Linked DNA regions of Homo sapiens: region 1 is linked to region 2. The links come from fine-mapping of genetic effects on gene expression. A gene starts in region 2. The other region holds a variant in brackets. All regions are shown on one strand. Distances are from middle to middle. Region 1 overlaps ZC3H18 (zinc finger CCCH-type containing 18). Region 2 holds the start of ZC3H18 (zinc finger CCCH-type containing 18).

What was found. PIP is the estimated chance that this variant, and not a neighbour inherited with it, causes the effect.
Region 1: its variant is the best candidate, but not a certain one, in a credible set for the expression of ZC3H18 in whole blood (INTERVAL, PIP 0.79).

The regions. Positions count from the first base shown.
Region 1 is chr16:88,603,212-88,607,593 of GRCh38, reverse strand. All of the region lies in intron 6 of ZC3H18 (zinc finger CCCH-type containing 18), which reads right to left. Among named protein-coding and RNA genes, the nearest start is that of IL17C, 33 kb to the left of the region's middle. RefSeq lists an enhancer at 1-443. The variant G/C (reference allele first, on the strand shown) is at 2,332.
Region 2 is chr16:88,568,028-88,572,409 of GRCh38, reverse strand. It overlaps ZC3H18 (zinc finger CCCH-type containing 18), which reads right to left and starts at 2,007. Exons shown (of 18, transcript NM_144604.4): 1 at 1,844-2,007. RefSeq lists enhancers at 1,417-1,466, 2,557-2,606, 2,717-2,826 and silencers at 1,737-1,806, 1,987-2,316.

The DNA.
Region 1 (4,382 bases), 35 kb before region 2:
AGACGCCTGATACAAAGTGTGCATGAATAAATGGGGGTTTTGAAACCTGACACAAAGCGTGCATGAATAATGGGGAGACGCCTCTTGCACTGGGAGAGCGCAGCTCGGAATCGCCCACAAGTCAGTCCTTCCTACACTGACTGATAAATTTAACACAATCCCAGCAAAAACACCAATGAGCTTCTTTAAGGAGCCAGACAAGCTGACACCCAAGTTCACATGAAAAATCGCACCCCAAGAACAGCCAAGAAAACCCTGGAAATGAAAAGACACGCCAGACACGCCCTCTGAGACATTAAACATCCTAAAAAGCCTGTATAATTAAGCCAGTGCCATCGCAGCACATGAAAACCGGCGGCCAGAAGGAGGAGGCAGGAGGTCCAGAGGCAGACCCAGGCACGCCCAGAGAGGTGGCATCTCAGGGACAGAGGGGATTCTTCATTGAACAGGGAGGGGACGACTGTCCAGCTGCTGGGAAGGTCAGGCTCTCTTCCCCACTGCGCACAGGGTTGGGGGGGGCCTGCTCTAAACTCCTGGCGGGGCCCACAACTCTGCATCTCCTTTCCTGTGGAGCAGAGGAAACAAAGTGTACACTAGCAATAGGAGGTCCCTGGACGCCCCTCCAGGGTATGTCTCAGCCACAAGCCAACCCTCTGCTTCGGGTAGACTGGGTGGGAACCTGAGGCATCATGGCTTGAGGTGGCTCCAGCGATGGGTGGCTACGAACACCCTCGAGGCCTCCTCAACTCTCCACATGGCCTAGAACTGGCTCTCCCAAAGGACACAGCTTCAGTCCGTTCCCATCAGTCGGACACCGTTCAATCTAATGTGCACACTACTCAAATCACACTGAATTATAACACTCAGGAAACATTTGTAGAGACCTGTGGCAATATGACATCAGGCTACATAAAAACGAAGAGGAAGCCTGGACAGCACGCGAGACACCGTCTCTACAAAAAACACATCAGCAGCCAGGTCTGGTGGTGCATGGCTGTGGCCCCCAACTACTCGGTGGGCTGAGGCTGATTGCGTAAGCCCAATAGGGTAGAAAAGCCTTTCCCAAAATGTGTGAGGCGTGTGTTCTCTGACAAGAGGACTGTGCCGGCAAATTTGTTTTTGGGAAACTGTACTTAAGCAAAATGAAAAGGCCTCTTTCCTGCAGGCTTTCTGGAAGTCGTGGATGAGCGGATAGGAATGAGGCACACAGCATTTCCTCAGCGTGGCTGCCTCGGAACCATCTGCTCCGCAGCATGCGTTCTAGAGAACGTGTCAACACAACACGCCACCAGGAACTGCAACCATGCCAACAACGGACTCCTCAGCACCATCCTGAAAAATTCTGAAACACTCTTGAAATGAATTTGGAAGGTATTTAATTCAATTTAAAAATAAATGCTACTGGGCAGTATCATGGTATGCACAAACTCTTCCCCAACTGTTTTAGGGAACCCAAAATGTTAATGGGCCTTTTGAGAAAAGGGTTCTGTGGTGAAGCAAGGTTGGGCAAAGCTGGCTCGCAGCAACTGGGAGGCTCGCACCTCGTTCTGCAGTCACCACTTAACCAGCCAACACCAACAGTGTCCTGTGCACACACGTGGAATCTGCACTCCAGAGGCCCCGCGTCCCCAGAGGTCTGGGCAGCGTCAGACTCAGCACTGGCACGTGGAGTGGACCTACTCCTCGCTGGAGAGGAGAACCCGAGGTCCTGGCTAAGGGGAACCATTGGACATGCCCATCAGGGGCAGGTGGTTTCTGCCCACAGCCTTGCCCAGGGAGAGGCATGGCAGGTGAAAAGTCGAGCAATTAGAGAACGTGTAAGACAGAAGTTTGGAGCTTCGAGATCACTTTGTTTAACCATTTCATTTCAGTGACAAGGAAACTGGATCTCAAAAAGTACTAGGAAAAAGTTCTAAAATGTCTAACACTACTCACTTTTAATCTAAGGGTTATGCAATATTACACAATGAAATGCAACTTGCATTTGCACAATTCAGGTTGAAATCGTGCTGACCTCAACCCAGGTGGAGGGAGGCTGTGCTCTGCAAAGGGTGGGAGTCAGATGCTCACGTGTCCCTGCTTGCTGCAGAGACCCAAGGTGAAAAGGAGGGTCCCAGGCAGCTCACAAAGGGAGCAGCGACGCAGCCCCCTGCTGCCTCTTGCCCTCACCCCAACCCAGCATGGTCGACCTGGTGCCCACCTGCCTGTTGCCCACGTTCCTGTTGCAACGCTGGCCACTGAAAGTGCAGGCAGGGGAGGAGGTCCCCAAAGGCATGCAGAGGCCACAGGCAATGCCTGGGCACCCATACATCCATCTGCCCTGAGTCTGTG[G/C]GACTGTGGGCTTACCCATGTGGAGCAGGCCCTGTCTTACTCTCCAGGTAGCCCAACCCTCCCTCCCTGCTCACTCAGGGGGCTTCCCCACAGGGCACCAGCAAATCCCAGGTAAAAGCCACTTGTGCTCTCTCAGTTAAGCATCTGGGACAAAGGAGGTGCTGGACCAGCATCTGGTAGACCTGTTACCTGAGGAAAGGGAGTGTGCTTTTTGAAAATTACTGTTCTGTTTCCTCTGTATCCCAGCCTGACATCCTACTCCAAAGAACAGCAGCCTGCACCTCCGCCTCTAATACACCGGCACTGCACTACTCTCTGTGCTGGGGGCGTATGGGGAGTTGGCAGGGGCCCAGTCCATGGCCCTGGCCATGGCCTGACAGCCTGACTCTGATTTAATCAGAAACTCTGTTCACGGTGGGGCTACTACTGATGACCGCATTTCTCACAGGTGACGTCCTGTGCGCACTAGAGGCCCTTGTGTCTTTTGGGTCACATGTCCCTATTAGACTTGTAGAATATTCTGGGCACAGCATCCCCAGGAGCCCTATGCAGAGATGACATTTCTTTTTTTTTCTTTGAGATGGAGTCTTGCTCTGTCGCCCAGGCTGGAGTGCAGTGGCGCCATCTCGGCTCACTGTAAGCTCCGCCTCCTGGGTTCACGCCATTCTCCTGCCTCAGCCTCCCGAGTAGCTGGGACTACAGGTGTCCGCCACCACGCCTGGCTAATTTTTTGTATTTTTAGTAGAGATGGGGTTTCACCATGTTAGCCAGAACGGTCTCAATCTCCTGACCCTGTGATCTGCCTGCCTCAGCCTCCCAGAGTGCTGGGATTACAGGCGTGAGCCACTGTGCCCGGCCGTCATTTCATTTCTTAATGTCTTACATATGTGAGAACTTTTTTTTTTTTTTTTGGAGAAAGAGTCTCACTCAGTCACCCAGGCTGGAGTGCAGTGGCACGATCTCACTTGCTGCAACCTCCACCTCTCGGGCTCAAGAGATTCTCCCACCTCAGACTCTTGAGTAGCTGGGACTACAGGTGCGTGCCACCATGCCCAACTAATTTTTGTATATTTTGTAGAGATGGGGTTTTGCCATGTTGTCCAGACTGGTCTTCAACTCCCGAGCTCAACTGATCTGCCAACCTTGACCTCCCAAAACACTAGGATTATAGACATTACTAGCTACTGTATCCAGCCAATATGTGAGGTTTTATAAGTCAGATGGTACCTGAACAAAGTGCTTGAGGTGGTAGAAACGGAATATTTAAAGCTGCGAATCAGAGTGCGTCTGTCTAGCAAAGTATTATTATTATTATTATTTTAAGAAATGGGGCTGGGCACGGTGGCTCACGCCTGTAATCCCAGCACTTTGGGAGGCCAAGGCCGGTGGATCACAAGGTCAGGAGATCGAGACCAACCTGGCTAACATGGTGAAACCCCATCTCTACTAAAAATACAAAAAAAAAAAAAAAAATTAGCCGGGCATGGTGGCAGGCACCTGTAGTCCCAGCTACTTGGTAAGCTGAGGCAGAAGAATGGCGTGAACCCAGGAGGCAGAGCTTGCAGTGAGCCCAGATTGCGCCACTGCACTCCACGCTGGGCGACAGAGCCAGACTCCGTCTCAAAAAAAAAAAAAAAAAGAGACGGAGTCTCGCTCTGTTGCCCAGGCTGGAGTGCAGGGGCATGATCTTGGCTCACTGGCAACCTCCGCCTCCCAGGTTCGAGCAATTCTCCTGCCTCAGCCTCCCAAGTAGCTGGGATTACAGGTGCATGCTGCCACGCCCTGCTAATTTCTTCTGTATTTTAGTAGAGATGGGGTTTCACCGTGTTGCCCAGCCTGGTCTCAAACTCTTGAGCTCAGGCAATCCGTCCGCTTTGGCCTCCCAAAGTGCTGGGATTACAGGCGTGAGCCACCGTGCCCGGCCACAAAGTATTATGTTTACTAAGTGATCCTGCTAGGTCAGTTTTTAATTCCAAAAGAGATATAAAGAAAAAACAGGCCAGGTGCGGTGGCTCACGCCTGTCATCCCAGCACTTTGGGAGGCCGAGGCA
Region 2 (4,382 bases):
AAAATAAGTGCCCAGGAGGAGGAGGTTGCGGTGAGCCGAGATCCTGCCACTGCACTCCAGCCTGGGCAACAGAGTGAGACTCCGTCTCAAAAAATAATAGTAATAATAAAGAGCAGGTGCTACCTCCCTTCCGAGCAGCCCCTCTGGGAGGATGCACAGACTCCAACGGCACTGCTGAAATGCAGAGCGTTTGGGGACCTTCTCATTGCGAATGACCTTCCAAGCCTAAAGAAGTCTTCTGGTATTCTTAGTGGTGGCAAATCTTCCTCCTCTCAAGCTAGTCACTTTGATAAAGTGCTGCAAGTCAGAGTCTCACCTGATAAGGTGAGCTACCAACCACGTAAGTAAACTTTTGGTCAAACCTGGAGGGTGACTATTGAATAAGACTGATTTTCCCATATGACTACATTTTTACTACCACAACAGGAGTTCTAAAGAGATTCTGGCAAAGAAGCACCGATGAAATACAAGCACATTTTGGGACAATTACTTTCAACAGAGCAGTACCTATTTGAATGCCTAAGTTCTGGTACATCTGGTTAAAATTCTGACTCATAACCTCATGGACTTAAAATATCTAAATGAACGTTATCAAGGTTGGTGACAGACCCCACGTGCAAAGTGACCAAGCGTGACCACTAAACTCCTTGATAAAGAGGTACTCACCTTGAGATGCTCTGTAGCTGTGACAAAATACAAATCTCTGTAAACACGATGTAGGCCATAGGTTAACTTACCTGTTTGCTTTCTGGAGTGACTCCACAAAGCTTTCTTACAATATTTCAGCATGTCCCACCTACAACGGGAGAGGAGTTTCCGGCTTTGGGACACATTTGACTGGTTCCAGGGCTGGCTGGGCTCCATACTGCCCTTAGATAGTAAAATTATCAGGAAAAGACTCTCCTCCCAAAGCTGGGAAGCGGGATTCAGCCGAGGTCAAACCTCACCCGGATAATCCCAACTACTGAACGGGAAAGGACTACTCTACAGACAACAGGCTGGAGGTGAGTCTAACAGGAGACATGATGAGCACCTTGCTACACCCCAAACGGTACTTCAGATGCCAAACACTCTCTTCTTCCATTTTCCCAAATGGGTCTGAAGAATGACCTACTCTTGCAAATGAGTTAGCGTTGTTCGAACAAAGCTCATTTAAAACGGCCACTCTACCCGGCAAACTCAGTTGTCATAAAGTATTCAGGAAAAATGTTTGGCAGGAGTAAGGCTGTTAAGTTTCAGTTCTTCCAGCATTATAGCTGCAGTTGGTCTATATAAAGGACCCAGCACCTCTGATCTCCTAATCCAAGGGGCAAGGAAGTTACATACTCCTAAGAGACCGGCGCGCGTCTTGGGGCAATCACTGCGCCCAACCTGTGCACACTTTGAAGCTGCGGAGCAAGTTCCAGGAGGTTCATAAAGAGCTCAAAGTTCTCCGAAGAGCCCAGCAGCAGCCCGGGATGACCTACTCTGGAGGTGAATCTGGGCGCCTCTCACCGCCCCTTAGCCGGCGGCACACATGTGCCACGCGAGTGGCCCGGAAGAGAAATGACAGCTTCAGGAAAATAAACTCTGCCGCGGGGCGCGGAGGCAGCGCGCGAGGAGCTCGGGCGCCCAGGGCGCCCCAGGACCGCGGGGCCGGCTTACGGACGGAACTCGGGGTGGTGCCTGTCTCAAGGTCCCCTTCCCTGGGCCCGAGGGCCACGCTTCGGCCGGTGGGTCCGCACGGCCGGAGGCGCGCCGGGCTCCCGGGCCTCCCTCCCGCGGCCGCCGCCGCCGCCTCGGCGGCCTCCTCCTCCCGCCGCCGCCGGCCCGGCCTCCCGCCGCCCTCCCGGCCCCAGCTAACCTCAGCGCTAGGGCGGAGAGGAGGCCACGGCTCCCCTGGAGTCGGAGCGGCGTGGAGAAGACGTCCCTTGGCCCTTCCGCTCTTCACAGGTTCTGGCTCCAGGCTCGACACGGGCGGAACAAACGGGCTCCACTACCCGCGGGGGCCGGCCATTGTGCGACGTCATCAGGCCGCGACGGTAGTCCTACGGCCGGCGGGCTTCCCTCCCTCGCCCCGCCCCCTCCAGCTTCCTTCCGGCCTCCGCGCGGTTCCGCCCCCGCAGCGCGCGCCCGGACCCGCGCGAGCCAGCCGAACCCCCGCTACAGCGCAGGCGCCACGGGGAGTTCGCTTCTCAGGCGGCGGGCGTGCGGATCCGCGCCTGCGCACAGAGCTCCCCGCGGCCGCCGGGTCACGTGACGGGGCTCCGGCTGGGCCGGCGGGTTCTTCATCCCCGGGGATGATCGAGTTCATCAAAGTGGAAAACTTAAGGCGGTCTTCGTCGGGCTGATACTTCCTGCTTTATTGAATGTTGATATTAAATGCTTACCTCCGGAATTATTTTTTGAGGTATCGACTTTAGATTAAAAGCCTAACAATTCTTACCTTTCCCGTGGGCTGCCTGGCTCCCCGCGCGGTTCAACGCGAGCAGCGCCAGTGAGGGGACCTGTCGCGTGTCCTGCTCAGCGCGGTGTCCCACGGGCGCGTCCACAGCCCGGGGCGTCCAGGGGCTGCAGCGGTGCGAGCTGCTCTAGAGACGGAGGGCCCGGCCGGAGACCAGGGGCCGGCGGTTTCATCCTGCGCTGACCCTTGCCAACGACGTGGCTGGTCCTGGGGATCACAGGGCTTCGCTCATCCCATCTTCCTCCATATCCCCAAGGTGGAAACAAGGGGGCGAGATGTCCACAAACTGAGGAACAGACAAAATGCTGGCTGTCCATGCAGTGGAGTGTGAGTCAGTCATCAAGAAGAGTGAAGTTCAGACCCATGCCACAACATGGGTGAACCTTGGAAACATACTAAGTAAAGCAAGCCAATCGCAAAAGGACAAAACCTGTGCGACTCCATGCTATGGACCGAGTTCTGTCCCCCTAACATTTGTATGTGAAGCCTTAATCCCCAATGTGACTGTGTTTGCAGAAAGGGCCTTTAGAGAAGTAATTAAGGTTAAATGAGATTATAAGGGTGGGGTCCTGATCTGATAGGATTAGTGTCCTTGGAAGAGGTACCACAGGCCTGGCACTGTGGCTCACACCTGTAATCCTAGCACTTTGGGAGTCCAAGGTGGGAGGACCACCTCCTCCAGGAGTTTGAGACCAGCCTGGGCAACAAAGCAAGACCCCTGTCTCTACAAAAAAATTAACAGGGCACCGTGGTGCGTGCCTGTAGTCCCAGCAACTTGTTATGGTTACGTAAGAGGAATGTGAATTCAACCCTGGTGATTTTGGGTCGTGTCAGGAGCAGCCCTGCGACACCAGTTGGCACCTTCTGCAGACTCTATGTGTCGATAAGACAAGGTCCCACCCAGCAAGTGCCCTTTTCTCAGCTGATGAACATAAGCCTGCATGGACGTTACTGTCCATGGAAAGGAGCGGCCGGCACCGGCTGTGACAGACACGTGCCTGTCTGCGATCTGAGTTTCATGAACAGTAAACTCTGTTGGTCACAGCCTCTTTGGAAAACAATGTTAGTTAAAAGAAGTGCCCTGTGACCAGCAGTGCCACCCTCGACAGGGTTCTCCAAGTGGGACCCGGGCAAGCAGCCTCAGTATCACTAGGGGTTGTTAGCAATGTGCCTTCCTGGGCTCTGCCCCAGAGTGGCCGCACCAGTGACTGGGAGTGAGGTCCCAGGGCCCTGTGGTCCATGAAGAGCTCTCAGGGGATTCTGATGCCCAGTGGTACAGGTGGGCCACCGGACTGGGGTGTCATCTGCCCGTGGGCATGAGACATGAACAAGGACATAGCAGGTCTGTTAGTAGTCATAACTAAAAGAACAAAGGAGCCGGGCACGGTGGCTCATGCCTGTAATCCCAGCACTTTGGGAGGTCGAGGCGGGCAGATCGCGAGGTCAGGAGATCGAGACCATGCTGGCTAACACAGTGAAACCCCGTCTCTACTAAAAATACAAAAAATTAGCCGGGCGTGGTGGCGGGCGCCTGTAGTCCCAGCTACTCGGGAGGCTGAGGCAGGAGAATGGCATGAACCCGGGAGGCGGAGTTTGCAGTGAGCCCAGATCATGCCACTGCACTCCAGCCTGGGCAACAGAGCGAGACTCCGTCTCAAGAAAAAAAAAGAACAAAGGAAAAAACCAGAAAACCACCCAGATGTTGATGAGCAGATGATTGTACTGTTGTAATAGTAATCTGGTACAACATTTGCAACATCGCGGTTGTTAAAAATGCTAACGCATGAACCTCCAGTGTGTATACACAGATATAAATAAACGGGTGAAGACCATCTGTGAGGTTGCATGACAAAGGCAAGTGCAGAAGCAGACAGGGTGGGCACATTTCTTTTCTTTCTTTCTTTCTTTTTTTTTTTTTTTGAGACAGAGTCTCACTCTG